Regions from separate parts of the Homo sapiens genome. Here region 2 is linked to region 1. A link means that fine-mapping ties the variant in region 1 to the expression of a gene that starts in the linked region. Tissue or cell type: whole blood. Region 1 holds a variant in brackets; the other region holds the start of a gene. All regions are shown on one strand. Distances are from middle to middle.

Region 1 (8,249 bases):
TTTGTGTCTGACTTTGTGCACTTAGCATAATGCTTTTGAGATGCATTCATGTTGTGAACAAATGTGAATTTGAAAGAGCCAGTCTTTTGGGATGGATCCTGTATGGTTACTTGGGCTTAAATTTAAAATAGAACCTACCAGCCATTTGCTGTCTAGAGGTCATACAGGTACTCTAAGTCCCCTCAAAACTCACACCTTTTAATTTTGGGGCTTGGAAACCAACCAATCAGAGCTCACCTGAAGCAACCAATCAGAGTTCACCTTCCCTGGCCAATCAGCGCTCAGCTGTATCAACCAATCAGGACTGAGCTGTGTTAACCAATAAGAACTAAGTAAGTTTCACTCTTTCTTGGCATCAACATAGGTGATAGCAACATAGGTGATAGGGAACCTGGGCAGAAACTTTTGCTTTAAAACCGGAGCCTTCCCTCTGTTCCCTGGAACACACCTTCATTTTACAACAAAGATTGTGTTTCTGTAGTTTGCAGCCTTTTGCTGGAATAAAGTCTGTTTCCTTCACATTCCTTTTCAGATAATTTTTTCTTTTCTTTTCTTTTTTTTTTTTTTTTGAGACAGAGTCTCACTCTGTCACCCAGGCTGGGGTGCAGTGGCGCCCTCTGGGCTCACTGCAACCTCTGCCTCCTGGGTTCAAGCAGTTCTCCTGCCTCTGCCTCCCAAGTAGCTGGGATTACAGGTGCGTGCCACCATGCCCGTATAATTTTTGTATTTTTAGTAGAGACTGGATTTCACCATGTTGCCTATGCTGGTCTTGAACTCCTGACCTCAGGTGATCCACCCGCCGCAGCCTCCCAAAGTGCTGGTATTACAGGCGTGAGCTACTGCACCCAGCCCTTTTCAGGAACTTTTGTTCACAATGTTGTTGCATTTATTAGCAATTCCTTTTTAACTCTAACATTCCATCATACAGATATGCTATAGTGTATCCACTCACCAGTTGACAGACATCTGAGTTACTTCCAGGTTTGACTTTTATGAATAAAATCTCAATGAATGTTCATCTGAAAATGTTCGTGTGGAAACAACAACAGAACTGGTAATTCCATTAAAACGTAAGCAAAGGACATGAATAGACGTTTTTCAGAAGAAGACATAGAAATGGCCAACAGGTACATTAAAAAAGCCAAACATCACAAATCGTCAGAGAAATGCAAATCAAAACCACAATGAGATATTATCTTACCCCCGTCAGAATATCTATTTCAAAAAGTGTAAAACATAAGTACATTTATTTGAATGGTAAGATTTTATGATGATTTCACACTGTTTTTACCACCTTAAGATTTAATGAAGTGTCTGACAATAAAGGCAAAAAAACCTTATTATACTAGTCAGATACTCCAGAAATACTACATACAGAGATTTTTGAAGAGTAGAAATTAAATTACTTGGCTTCATTTTGGTTTCACTGCAAATTTCCACATGATGAGTAATCATTAGAAACAAAGGTTTTTATTATTGTTTTCAAGAACTAGGTATTTTTTTCTTCCATTTATTGCCATGACATCAATGTGAGAAAAACTTTTTAAAACCACTAATGTGTAAAGTATGTGTCACTTTAAAATTGCATGATCCAAACATTACTTAAGATATTGATTTCAAGGTCGGGTGCGGTGGCTCACGCCTGTAATCCCAGCACTTTGGGAGGCCAAGGCAGGTGGATCACCTGAGGTCAGTAGTTCAAGACCAGCCTGACCAACATGGTGAAACCCCATCTCTACTAAAAATACAAAAATTAGCTGGGCGTGGTGGCAGGCATCTGTGATTCGAGCTACTCAGGAGGCTGAGACAGGAGAATTGCTTGAACCAGGGAGGCGGAGGTTGCAGTGAGCCGAGATCGTGCCATTGCACTCCAGCCTGGGGAACAGAGCAAGACTGTCTCAAAAAAAAAGATACTGATTTCAGTTATGTCTGGCCATGTCAGTGAAAACATAACTTTTCTGAAATATTGGTTAAAATAAAAAATTTATTAATATTAATTTTAACTTCAGTTCATAAAAATCACTTTATTCTTCAAGCACAATTTTTGTATTGAACAGATGTATTTAAAAGTAAACTAGTAAGTGTTCCTTTTTTCCCTGTCTTTTGGAAGTGTTTCTTGTAAGACTGATGTTACTTCTTTCTTAAATATTCAGTAGAATTCACAGGTGAAACAATGCAAGCCTGAAGTTTTTTTTTTTTTTAATGGGTATTGATTAGAAATTCAATTTCTTTACTAGGTATTGGACTATTTAGATTTTCTAATTCTTTTTATGACAGTTTCATATGTGTGCTTTTCAAGGAATTTGTCCATTTCATCTAAATTGTCAAATATAATGTTATAAAGTGATTTGTAATATCATTTTAGTGTGTTTAGTCTCTGTAATAATGTTCCTTTTTTCATTCCTAAGATTGGTCATTTGTATTTTCTCTTTTTTCTTGATTAGTATTGCTAGAAACTTATCCATTTTATTGATATCTTAACATAACTTTAATATTTCCTCTTCTATTGATCTCTATTTCATTTATTTCCACTTTTAAAAGTTATTTTCTTATATTTTCTTTAGATTTAATTTGATATTTTTCTAGCTTCTTGAAATGTAAACTTAGATCATTGAGTTCACACACTTATTCTCTAATAAAAACACTTAAGGTAAAAATTCCCCTGTAAGGGAGGCTCAGGTTGGATGATTGCTTGAGGCCAGGAGTTCAAGAGCAGTCTGGACAACATAGCAAGACCCCACCTCTACAAAAAAATTTAAAAATTAGCCAGATGTGGTGGTGAGTGCCTATAACCTCAGCCATTCAGGAGGCTGAGGCAGGAGGATTGCTTGAGCCCAAGAGGTTGAAGCTGCAGTGAGCCGTGATTCTGCCACTTCACTGCAGCTTGAGTGACAGAGCAAGACCCTGTCTTAAAAAAAAAAATCGTGTGCACACTGTCTTTAGCTTTAAATCACAAAATTTGAAATGTACTCCTCTTATCCTTCAGTTAAAAATATTTTCTAATCTTCATTAAGATTTATTTGGCCCATGGGTTATTTACATATATGTTGTTTAGTTTCCAAAGATTTGGGCATTTGCTAGTTATGTTGTTATTGCTGGTTTTTAATTTGATAGATTATGGTCATGGAATATACTTAGTATAATTTAAAGCCTTAGATTTTTATTAAAACTTATTTTATAACCCAGCACTTGAAAAGAATTATATTGGGTATTATGTGAAATATCCTACTCTTAGGTGTAAGAAATGGTTTATAAATGTCAGTTAGGTTACTTGATTGTGCTTTTTAATTCTCTGTATCTTGAGGCCAGGAGTTTGCCTGGGCAACATAGTGTGACCTTGTTTCCACAAAACAAATAAATAAATAAAAGGAGTGTGGCTGCACATGCCTCAGCTACTCCAGAGACTGAGGTGGAGGATCACTTGAGCCCAGGGTTTTAAGGCTGCAGTGAGCTATGATTGTGCCACTGCACTCCAGCCTGGGTGACAGAGCAAGACCCTGCCCCTACTCCAGTACTATTTTTGTAGCTACATAAGTGGCTAGAAAAAAAAAAATCTATTGTGTGTTTTTGAAAAGCTAGAGGAGAGGATTTTGAATCTTCACCACATAGAGAAATGATAAATGTTTTAGGTGATGGATGTGCTAATTACCCTGATTTGACTATTATACACATTGTATGCATGTATCAACATATCACTCTGTATCCCTTAAACATGTACAATTACGATGTGAACTAAAACTAAAAGAAAAAAATATATTGTACCCCTAACTGTTAATCTAAACCATCAGCCCTGACCACTTCCCAAAATTCCAGCCTCATAAAATCAGTCAACTTCTTGGAATTTCTGTGAACACAAGCAGTAGGCATGACAAACTAAACATTCTGAAAACAGTATCCCCAGTTCTCCTATTCCCTGACCTGCCCCTTCCTCAGTTTTCTTTCTTTTAGGAATCAGAGGCATTGTCCTCTCAGTAGATTAAGTGCCAAGTCTAAAATTTATTATTGATTTTTCTCTCATTTGGTAAGCAAAATCCAAGTGCTGCTGATTTTATGCACCCCAAGAATCACCTACAGGCTCATGCCATCTCTTGTCTGGATGCCTGAACTAGCTTTTGCAAACAGCTCTCTCTCTCCATGAACAGAAGCAAAAAATGACTTTTTAAAACACAATCAACATAACTACTTCCAGCGGTGATGGCATAAGAGAGACCAGATTTATGCTCCTACCTTAAACAACTAAAAATCTAGGGAAAATGGGAAAGAATGGTTTTCTGACACTGGACAACAGGTAGTATAGCATTGTAATCTCCAAAAAAGGGGAAACAAATAAGATGATTCCCGTGATTGCCTTGATTACTGACTTGAGAGAGTTCCCAGGCCACAGAGTAGGAGGGGAAACACAGGTAGAGCCCGGTAGACTCTTTGAAATAAGAAGATAAAGTTGGGAGTTGGGAAGAACAAGGCAGATAGAGTTGAAAGATTAGTACTGAATAAGAGAGTACTGCAGACAGAATATGATTAAGACATCAGTTCTTCTTCAAGCAAATCCATAGATTCAATGTGATTCAAGTTAAAAAAACATTAACCTAATTCTAAAAATTTATATCGAAAGGCAAAGGAACTAAAATAGCCAAATTACTTTTGAAAAGGAACAACATTGGAGTATGTCAAGACTTGCTATTAAGCTACAATTATCAAGACAGTGTGATATTGGCTAAACGGTAGACAGACCAATGGAACACAATAGAGTCCGGAAATAGATCCACACACAATATTGACTTTTGACATACGTAAAAAATTCAATGAAGAAAGAATATTATTTTCAACAAATGATACTGGCGTAATT[G/A]GACATTAAAAATATTAACAAAAAAGAAACTCAACCTAAGCCTCACATTCTTTGCAAAAGATAATTAAAGATGGATTATAGATTTAAATATTAAATGTAGAACTACTACATTTTTAGGAGAAAACATTAAAAAATGTCCAGGACCAAGAGCTAACCAAAGAATTCTTTGACATGACACCAAAAGCACAATCTGTAAAAAAGGAATAAGTTGGACTTCATAAAAATGAAAAATTTTTATGGTTGATTAGCCAGGCATGGTGGTTTGCACCTCCAGTCCCAGCTACTTGGGAGGCTGAGGCAGGAGGATCACTTGAGCCCAGGGGGCAGAGGCTGCAGTGAGCTGAGATTGCACCACTGCACTCTAGCCTGGGAAACAGAGTAAGACCTTGTCTCAAAAAAATAAAAAATAAAAATAAAAAAAGAAAATTATGGTTAAGCTTTAGACTCAATACAAATTAAAAAAAAATAGAGCAGATCATCACATTGCTCTGTATCTTTTAATGGCTACCAGGTGTCTACCTCAGGCTTAACAAACTCTGCTGTATATGGTTCAGACCTCATTTTCTGGATACCCACTCTCTTTCTCACTGAAAAATGACAGATGAATGTGGAGGCTGCTACAATAGATGAAGAAAAACAGAGGCGTCAAAGGCTCTCAGACCAGCAAAGAATGAGAGAAGGGAGGTGATTTTGTGATTGACAAAAAGCTACAACAAGTGCTATGAAAAGAACTAAAATATTTGCTGAACTAGACTGGAGAGAGCCTGAGAGGCTACGTTATCTTAGGGACTCAGAAAAAAATGTTCTGAGGAGGTTATGTTTAAACTGAGATTAGAATTACATGAACTGGTCACATGAAAGTTCAAGAGGAAGAATATTCCAAGCAGGACAACAGTTAGTACAAAGATTCTGAGACAAGAATGATTTGGTATGTTTGAGAAATAAAGATATTACTAGTGTAATTACTAACATAATCGATGAAAGAAAAACTGTTGAGGAAGACCATCAGAAGGACAGGCAAAAGCCAGATAATATGAGGCTTTGGGAGTCAGATAGTGGATTCAGATGTTTTTATTATTAGCATGATGGGAAGCTATTGGAGGGTGTTAATCAAGAGATGGGCACGATCATGTTTATATTAGAAAAAAAAAACTTTGGCTGCTGTGTAAATAACTGATTGCTGTAGAGCAAGAGTGAATGCAGAAAGATTAGGAAACTATTGTAGTGGTCCGGATGATGATGGTTTGAAGTCAGGTGGTAGTGGACAGGAAAGAAACACACAGATTTGGTCCACGTTTTTGACATAGAGTCAATGGGATATGGTGATGGATTAGATTAAAAGAATCAATAGGCCGGGTGCAGTGGCTCATGCTTGTAATCCTTGCACTTTGGGAGGCCAAGGCAGGTGGATCACTTGAGATCAGGAGTTTGAGACCAGCCTGGCCAACATGGTGAAACCCCATCTCTACTAAAAATACAAATATTAGCCAGGCGGGGTGGCATGAACCTTGTAACCCCAACTACTTAGGAGGCTGAAGCAGGATAATTGCTTGAACCTTGGAGGCAGAGGTTGCGGTGAGTGAAGATCGCACCACAGCACTCCAGCCTGGACAACAGAGTGAGACTCCATCTCATAAAAAATAAATAAATAAAATAAAGAATCAATAATTACTTATATTTGGGACTTAAGACATTTGGTAGAGTGTGATGACTTTTCCTAAATTTGGAAGAAATGTAGAAGATTTGTCAAGCAACTGTTTCAGGGGGAATCAAATTGATAGTTTTACTTTGATGATGCCCCATAGGTTTTCAAGTGGAAATGCAGAGGAGGGAGGTAGATACCAGTCTGGAGTCCTGAAGAGAAGTTGTGGATTATGATGGATGTTTAGGGGGAGTCATTTATGTACAGATGGGATTTCAAGTTATAGGAACACATTACCTAGGATGACTGCATTGATGCAAATAGATGAGGGGGGTCTAGAATTGAGCCCTCGGGTACACCAACATTTAAAAGTCAGAAAAGAGCCAGTCAAGGAGATTGAGAAAGATAAATCACTGAGGTAGGAAGAAAACCAAACAAGTGTGATGTCACCAAGAGAATTATATATTTTAAAATAAAAGGGTGTGGACAACTGAGTCATATATGCTTAGGGGCCTAAGATTCCCATCATTATCAGATAAGCATATATGACTTAGATTTACTCCATTGGATTCATAGGCAAGCACCAAATGTCTGAACCTGCAGTGCAGTAACATGGCAATGGATGTCACTGTTGTCCTTGATAAGAGTAGTCCCACTGCAGTAATCAGGACATGAACCCATTTAGAATGAGTTCTGGAGAAAATGTGAAATGAGGAAGTAGAGAAAGAAACTGGAAGTGACCCTTGAGTTTGCTGTCAAGGAGAGCAGAGAAATTTGTTGTAAAGTTCAGGAGGACGCGTGTGGTACAAAAGGTTTTTATGTTTTCAGTTAGTAGATTAGAGAACAGATGTATATGCTGATGGCAAAAACACAAAAAGAAAATGGCATGATAAAGTAGACAGAGAGACTATTTTCATTTCTTCCACTCAATTTCTACTAATTTATATTAGTTAATGCTTCATCTTTCCTCTGTTTTTTTTTTTTTTTTTAAACACTAGAAGCATATGCTATGTCAGTCAGGTTTCCACCAGATAAATAGGACTCAAAATGGATCACAGACCTAAATGTAAAAGACAAAATTATAAAACTCCTAGAAGATAACAGGAGAAAATCTAGATGACCTTGGGTTTGGCACCCTGTTGTTTTGACTTTACAAATTGTTACTAAAAACATCTGGGGGTGAGCTCCATTTGCACTGGCCTTGTGGGCAGTTGTTTCCCTTTTGAAGGTGCCCCACTTGACCTCTGAGTGGCTAGTGGGGACAAGGAGTGATAGCAGGAAGGAATGCAGCAACCAAGGAGGCACTGGCCTCAGCAGCACTTGCTCTTGAAAATTGCCAAGGGGACTTGTGCAGTTGCCATATTACAGGTTAGGCTTAGGTGACTTGATCCTTTCATCCTGGCTCTCCTTTATCAACACACTGAAGCCCAGCATTTTATCATCTTTTCTGACTTCACTATGAGGGAATTGCTGCTACCCAGGAGCCTGGTATCCTGTGGCTCTCTCATCAGTGAGATGTGTAGGAGATCGGTCAGGATGGTGGGAAAAGTTGTAAGATAAATTATAGGAAAAGGATGCAAACCTTCTTGGAAGGCCTGGGATTTGCATAGCTTCAGAAGAGGATTTGGCTGAAGGCAGCTGAATTTTCTCAGAATGGATAACAAGGAAGTGTAAAGGAATTGATCTAGATAAGTTAGTTTACTTAGGCCTCGGAACCTGGTATTTAATCATCTGTGCACAGGACTGCTGTCTTGGGGGGTG
Region 2 (8,249 bases), 38 kb after region 1:
CACAGCCAAAAGCCTGCCTGCTATGCCAGTAGTATTAAATGAAGCTCTTCAAGTTTCTCTATCAACTCAGCTGCTAGTGACCATCCTCAGCAGCCACCAGAGGTCAGGACAAAAGAACATCAAGAGGGGATCCAACTGCCCAGGTCGCTTTCGGGCAGCCTCACATCGTGGGTTGGATTGTGGGTGCGGCTTCAATGAGGCGACGACAGTGTTAAAGTTCGAGAGGTTTTAGTATTCACAGACCCCGGGAGGTACATGAGACATCTGGAGGCCACACTCAGAGGAGCAAGAGGACAGGCAGAAAGAGAGCTGACGGGGGTGGCAACTGGCAGTGGGAGTGGGGTGTGGCGCACTTCAAGTTCAGGGGCAAATGTCCGAATGGTTCCCTTTTTTCCTCTGTCACCCAGCTGGACTGCAGCGGTGTGATCTCGGCTCACTGCAACCTTCGCCTCCTGGGTTCAAGTAATTCTTCTGCCTCAGCCTCCCCAGTAGCTGGGCACCACCACCACGCCCGGCTAATTTTTTGTATTTTTAGTAGAGATGGGGTTTCACCATGTTGGCCAGGCTGTCTCGAACTCCTCGGCCTCCCAAAGTGCTGGGATTACAGGTGTGAGCCACCACGCCCAGCCAAGCTACAGCAATTTTCTATGATCATGAAAATCTGAGAATCTTCCCACCCTGGGCTATTTAGCCTCTTTAAGAATGATAGCAATTATGTAGCACTTGTTTACATCTAATACTCATAATAACACTGTGAGGCAGCCATCATCATCCCTTTTTTACTAGGGAGAATCCATGGCCCAGGGACTCCTGTAGTTTTTTCAGCATCATACCTAGCCAGTCAGTGGAGACAGGAAGATTTGTAAACCAGACCGAACAGAGCCACTACCTTTGCACGCTCAAGTGCTGCCATTGAAAGGCGTTCTTCCAAAATTACCAGGATAGGGTCCTGCCCTCGTATAATAAATTTTTTCTCCTATTTCTTTTACTCATTTCCTTCTTTTTTCCTATCATTATCAGTCACTTTCACTGAGGTCTTCCCAGGGACATTGTTTAGTGTAGCTCAGGGTTTCTCAGCTTTGACACCAATGGCATTTTGGGCTGGTTAATTCTTTGTTGTGGTGGACTGTTCTGTACACAGTAGGATGTTTAGCGGCACCCCTGGCCGCTATCCAGAGATGCCAGTAGCAACTCCCCATTCAGGAGTGACAACCAAAAGACATTGTCAAAGATCCCCTGGGAGGCAAAATACCTCCCACCCCCTCCCCCTGCCAGTTGGGTGTCACTGTAACAGTGTAAAGAGTACCAGGCTTTGGAGTCAGTTAGATCTCTACTCTGATCTTATCTCTGACACCTCGATGGTGTAAATTCTTGATCAGTGACATCTCTTTGAGCCCCCATTTTCCCCTCTGCAGAACTGAAATGGTTTTTTGATAAAGACTGATTTTCAGGGGAGGATTAAATAGAATAGACATGGACTGGAGGCTGAGGTGGGGGAATCGCTTGAACCCAGGAGGCAGAGGTTGCAGTGAGCTGAGATTGCACCACTACACTCCAGCTTGGCAACAGAGCGAGACTCCGTCTCAAAAAAAAAAAAAAAAAAAAAAAGAATAGACATGGAAATCATCTAGGATAGGTCGGTAAATCTGTAACAAATTAGAACTCTTAGCCCTCACCAGGCTGTGTGTTGTGTTGTGGGGTACAATCCCGAACCCTGCACTATGAAGCTCAGGGTCAGGACAAGAACGATGCTTATAGCAATAGTAGCTTCTACTTATGAACATTATCCACACACCAAGAGCTTCTCCCTTAACCCTCACAACTCCTCTCATAGGCTCTGTGGATGGGATGTGTTAATATGTGTAAGCACTCAACACACCCTGAGACACGGTGAATATTGATTAATGTTAGTTTTAATTTGTATAACCATTGTACAGACGAGAAAGTTAAGACTTAGATTGAGGTGGGATGTGGTGAGGGATAAAAGATCATTTTTTATACCAAAAAAATTGAAAATTGTATTTCTACTAGATCATTCTATCACATAATCACGCCCCCTCTCTTTCAAGAGAAACCTCCTTTGAAGCATATTTCTTTCCAGCTTCAACCCTATCTAGCCAAATGACCTCTCTGTAAGGTCTGTCTGTAAGACAGAATTTCCAGCCAAACATCCAAAGAGAATGTCTCTAATTCTTCCTTTTCCTTCTTCGCCTCAGCTGTTCTCCTTAATCCACTCCACATTGACTTCTGTCCTTAGCACTCCACCTAATGCATTTTCCCAAGGATGCTTATGACCCCCAGGCTGCCAAATCCAGTGAGTCCTTCTCAGTTTTTAAGACCTGATATCCCAATGACACAGGACCCATTGGATCACTTTCTCCCTTTTCAAACACATTTTTCCTATGCCATGAGATATATCCAAGAGATATGTGCACACAATACACTCTTGGTCGTCTCTACAGCTCGATTCTCTTCCTCTTTTTAGTCCAATTTACGGTGTTTTCTATTCTAAATTTGACTCTAAATGTTGGGGTATCTCACATTCTATAAATGATATCATCCAGTCTCTGGGATTAAACCATTATGCTGTCTTTTCATCTAAATTATCAGCCGTGGCCTCTCCCTGGCACTCAAGTCTGATAAAACCTCTCCCCGTGGGAGTCCCATAGACTCCAAACCTCACATGGTTTTACCAAACTGTTGATGTTCTCTGCCTCCCAGACCTGCCACTCTTCCAATATTCTGTATCTATTTGGAGATTAAATATTCAGTTGTTAAAGCTCCAGATCTAGAACTCACCTTTCATTTCTCTTTTCCTCACCACCCAACGCCATCCACGTCTTACTCATTCTATCTACAGAACATGCTGAATGCACAGCCAGAGCCATTGCCATCTCCACGACCGGTGTCCATGGCCCTGTCAGGCTTGGATATTTGCACAAGCCTTGCAAATAGCTTTTTCCTGGTCCTGCTGCCCCCTCCCCTAAGATCCATTCTCCAGACAGAAACCAAATGAGCTTTAAAAAGGTCCAATAAGATGGTGATGTTATTCGCAATACCTTCCGATGGCTTCCAGACTTCTAAGTTACCCTTATCTTAGGTTCCCTTATCCTAGGTTCCCTTATCCACTGCCACATGTGCCCTGTGCATCCCTCAGACCTCATCTCTGCACTCTCATCAGACACACTGGGCTCCACCCACTGGGCTCTAATTCCTTGAACTTGCAGCTCTTTGTCATCTCAGGGCTTCTGCTTTCTCTATTCCTTCTGCCTACCGTGCTCTTCGTCTTGAGCTTCCTGCACCTGGCTCATCCTGAATATTCATATTTCAGGTCAAATATTATTTCAGAGAGATCCCACCTCACCCACTCTGCAAAGCAGAATGCTCAGGTACAGCCTATCTCACCAGATACTTTTCTCCTTTATTTGTTTGTTCATTTATCTTCTCTCTTAAATACCCTCCACACTAGTACGTAAGCTCCACAGGACTATCAAGATCCTTCAATGCTACATCTCTACAATGCTACATGTCCAGTAGAAATATAATGTGTTAACTTTAGCTACATATGGGACTCAAAATTTTTTTGTAGCCACTGTTTTTAAAAAAGTAAAACACCTTTGGGGAAATTATTTTAGTAATAAATTTTATTTAATTACATATATGATAAAGAATTGGCCAGTCACATTGGCTCACGCCTGTAATCCCAGCACTTTGGGAGGCCGAGGTGGGCAGATCACGAGGTCAGGAGTTGAAGACCAGCCTGGCCAACATATTGAAACCCCGTCTCTACTAAAAATACAAAAAATTAGCCAGGCGTGGTGGCAGGTGCCTGTAATCCCAGCTACTCAGGAGGCTGAGGCAGGAGAATCGCTTGAACCTGGGAGGCAGAGGTTGCAGTGGGCTGAGATTGTGCCACTGCACTCCAGCCTGGGTGACAGCGCAAGACTCCATCAAAAAAAAAAAAAAAAAAAAAAAAAAAAAGAATGTTACTGGAACATGTAACCAAATTAAACACTGTTAATGAAATAGTTAACATTGTTTTCATACTAACGAAGTGGATTCTTCACTGGACTACGCTACTCCAGAGTTAGAAGGGCTCTGTCATATAGCAGGCATTTCAACAATAACTTTAAAATTTTCAGACCCCAACTTACCACCAGCTTAGATCCTTTTCCTGTGCCCAGTTCCTGGATTCCTGTGGAGCAACTCAGGCTCTAAGTACTTGTAAAAAGATGAAGTTATATGTTTGGTTTTAAGATCTTAATTGGCTTTGGTTATAAAGATGGAATCAGACAGCCTGTCATGCTATAAAACAAAATGAGTGTTTTGATAGTTAGAGCCAAGGAAGTTGGTTTTACAGGGATAGGAGGGCTAAAGAAAGCAGAAACAGAGAACAAAAACCTGATTGGTCATCTGGATGTTGCATTTTTTTTGTGCAGCAGGAATAGAGAGACAGCAATAAGGAACAACTGATTGATTGAAGTCAAGTTACCACAGATTGCTTTTTTTTTTTTTTTGTAAAGATGAAAGCAGACAGAACTTCATGTTCATGCCCACTGAAACTGGCCTGTTTTAGGAATTTGTCCATTTTCTCTCTCTCCTGATTTCTCAAAAGTTCAGATACATTAGTTTTGGTTTGGTGATGTGGAGTTTTAGTATGACTGACTCCATTTGGTTTGCTTTGTCGAACCTAGTACAATAGGTCAGTCCAAACCACTTACTTGCTGTTTTTATAGAACAGGCTTCAGCAGAGACTTAGTTGAAGGACACGGGGACAATGGAGCTGGAATCAATCCAGTGACACAAACTCAGGGTTTCTTACCATTCCCAGAAGACACCTTGGAGATGTTCTCAGACGATTTATCTTGGAAACTTATGTGTCTGAATGTTCCTTCACCTCTAGCCTTCTGTGGGAGACTGGAGTTCATCCTTCCAAATATCAAAGGCCAAGAAATCTGAGAGTCCAGGCCCTTTCTTTTCAGAGATTCAGGAAAATGAAAGAAACAATTACCAAGGTGAGAAGAATGAGAGGAAAAACAATAAAAAAACAAAGATGCACGGTGAAACAAAAACTCGATTCTCTACTTTCACAATCCTTCTGACCAAATATACTTTTTCTCTACACCAAGAAATTCTCCAATTCTCTGGGGACACCACCTGGGCCACCTGCAATTAAAAATTCGGTTATGATGCTGTCTACCTGGATTCAGCTCAGATCCGAAAAGCTAAAGGGCTCACTCCCACAAACTGTTCTCAGATCAGATCAGACATCTGTTGCAAGTCCCAGGTGGCTACTTGTACTTCTGACTGACAGGCTATAAATTGGGTGTTCCAATGACACCAATAAATTGCTAGAATGGCACACAGAACTCAGGAAAGCACTTTGTTTGCATCTGTTGCTTTATATAAGGAATATACCTCAGGAATAGTCCATTGGAAAGAGGCATATGGCAGGTATATGGCAGGGAAGGGGTTGGGTGGTGCATGGAGCTTCCATGCTCTCTTCAGGCAGCCACTCTCCCAGCACTCCTGAGTGTTCACCAATGTGGAAGCTCATCAAATCTCATTGTTCAAGAGTTTTTATGGAACTCAATCTCCAGTCCCTGCCTCCCCTTCCTGGAGATCAGTAGGTGGGGCTGACAGCTCCAACCCTCTAATCCCTTGGTCTTTCTGGTGACCAGTCCCATCCTAAGGCCATGATCTCCTTAGCATAAACTCAGCTATGATCAAAAGGGGCTGTTTATGAATAACAAATAATACTCCTATCACTCAGGGAATTCCAAGGGTTTTAAGAGCCCTGTGCCAGAAATCTGTGACAAAATCAAATATGCTTTGAGGTATTTCATACCTCAGAGTTACAAAGAGAAGCAGTAACTAGGAGCATGTAGAGAGGTAAGGAAGGTAAATGAGAGACACTGTACACTCCACACCATTGCCGAGATTAACCCCCTAACCTTCTGCCCCTAGGGAGATGCTCTATGGACTACTGATCTAAGGAGATGGGCTCTTTCTGAGTTTTTAAACACCATCAGAATGTTGTTCTCAAGCCCAAGGAATAGAACCATGAAAAACAGTGGAGAGCCACAAAACAAGAGTCAACTATTTTCTATTTTCTCTCTGATTCACTGGATGTTTTCAGTGATAAGGTAGAGTAAACCAATGAAGCACATAAGCCATGGAGAAATTTATTATTAAAAAAAGTTTTGGAAGGGGATAGATCTGGAGTTTGAACAAAAATTGAGTTTAATGTCACCCTTCCACTCCATCATCATATTGGTTTTCTTCTAGGGCTTTCTTGAAAGTGACCACAGAATGGCTGCCACTGTTCTGGACATTGCATCAACAGGCCCTCCCGAGCCAGAATCATGAGACAGGCAGAAAATGTGACTCATTCACATGCCTCTTCCATTTTATTACAGAGGGAAACCTTGTCCAGAGTCTCTTCAGGACCTCTCCTTGTCTTTCATTGCCAGAGCATGCCATCTCTAGACCAATCAATGGCCAAGAAATAACAAAAATACCGATACATAAAAATAAAGGTCAGGGACAGTGGCTCACGCCTGTAATGCCAGAATTTGGGGAGGCCAAGACAGGAAGATTGCTTGAGCTCAGGAGTTCAAGACCAGCCTGGGCAACATAGTGAGACCCCATCTCTAAAACCAAAAAAATATTAGCTGGGTGTGGTGGTGTGGACCTGTAGTTCCAGCTACTCAGGAGGTGAAGTGGGAGGACTGCTTTGTCAGGGAAGTTGAGGCTGCAGTGAGCCATGATGATGCCACTGCCCTCGAGCCTGGGCAATGAGCAATACCTTACCTCAAAAAAAAAAAAAAAAAAAAAAAAGACAAGTTGCTCATATTGGCTTAGGCCAATCATGATTGCTTTCCTAGGACAGTGGCACATTGCTACCTGCCACCTGATTAAAATGGAATTTACTTATCAGTATAATAAAGGGTGGTGGGTATTGCATGAGGCCTCTGAAGAGGTGCTCCCTTGCTGGCTCCTGCAGACATAGAGCTTAAACAGACATGTGCCTTACCCTGGAGATGCCGACTACCCAGGTAAAGAGGTGACAGCGTCACTCTACTGTGACTAAGCATAGTCTTATGCACCCTTTGTGCACAATGGTGTCCTCTGCCATTTCCCTAAGCAGTCACAGTAGAGTGGGGGTATATAGTGATAGACAGATGCCTGGTTCATTATGAGATTTCCCAAAAGGAACAACTAACTGAGACTGACAGGGTCCAGGGTCACTTCCAAGTGCAATGCAGATAACATCCGGGATGAATCTTAAAGACTCAGATAAAGAAGCAAAAAAAAATACATTCCAGGCAGAGGAGAGTGAAAGCACGCAGGAAAGGGTCAAAAAATAGCAGGTTACCTGCGGTTATTGGAGCATAGATGGTGAGGCAGACAGCAATAAACACTGAGTGTGTAGCAAGTGGCAGAAGCCATCTGTTGGAGGGTCCTGAATGCTACAAGAAGGACTTGGAATTTCTTCATAATAACATGAATAACCATTTAAGCAGGACAGTGACTTGTCAGGTGTGTGCTTCTGAAAAATATTGTTCTGTAGTCCTGCAAAGGGATGCCTTTGAGAATGTTTCTAATTGGAGACAGAGATATTAGAATGGAGAATGTTGCCAGAAATCAAGGTAAGGTTCTTGAAGAGCTACCCAGGGCAGGAATAGTGTGATCAAGAAGAGGCGTAGCTTAGAGACAGATTGTCCAGGCTGAGTAGACCAGCCTTGGAGACTGGATGGCTGTGGGGAATGGGGAAGAATGAGTGCTCTTTATAAATTCCACATTCCTAAAGTTACTATTGCTGCATCTGCTACAGTCTGAATGTTTGTTTCTCCCCTCCCCAGATTTGTATGGGAAATCCTAACCCCCTAGGTTATGGTATTAAAAGGCGGGACCATAGGGAGGAGATTAGAGCGTGATGGTTGCACCCTCATAAATAGGATTAGTGCCTTTGTAAGAAAGCCTTGAGGGAGCTTGTCTGTCTTCCACCATGTGAGGACATATGGAAGGCGCTGTCTATGAGTAATGGGCCCTCATCAGACATGGAATCTGTTGGCATCCTAACCTTGGTTTTTCTTTTTTTATTCTTTCCTTTTTTTTTTTGAGAGAAAGTCTTGCTTTGTCACCCAGGCTGGAGTGCAGCAGTGCAATCTCGTCTCACTGCAACCTCCACCTCCTGAGTTCAAGGGATTCTCGTGCCTCAGCCTCTCAAGCAGCTGGGATTACAG

The links. PIP is the estimated chance that this variant, and not a neighbour inherited with it, causes the effect.
Region 2: it holds the start of FPR3, and the variant in region 1 is fine-mapped to the expression of FPR3 in whole blood (TOPMed, PIP above 0.99).

Annotation. Positions count from the first base shown.
Region 1 is chr19:51,829,364-51,837,612 of GRCh38, reverse strand. It overlaps a transcript of ZNF577 not described here. Among named protein-coding and RNA genes, the nearest start is that of FPR3, 38 kb to the right of the region's middle. The variant G/A (reference allele first, on the strand shown) is at 4,847.
Region 2 is chr19:51,791,237-51,799,485 of GRCh38, reverse strand. FPR3 (formyl peptide receptor 3) reads right to left here and starts at 4,329. Exons shown (of 2, transcript NM_002030.5): 1 at 4,155-4,329.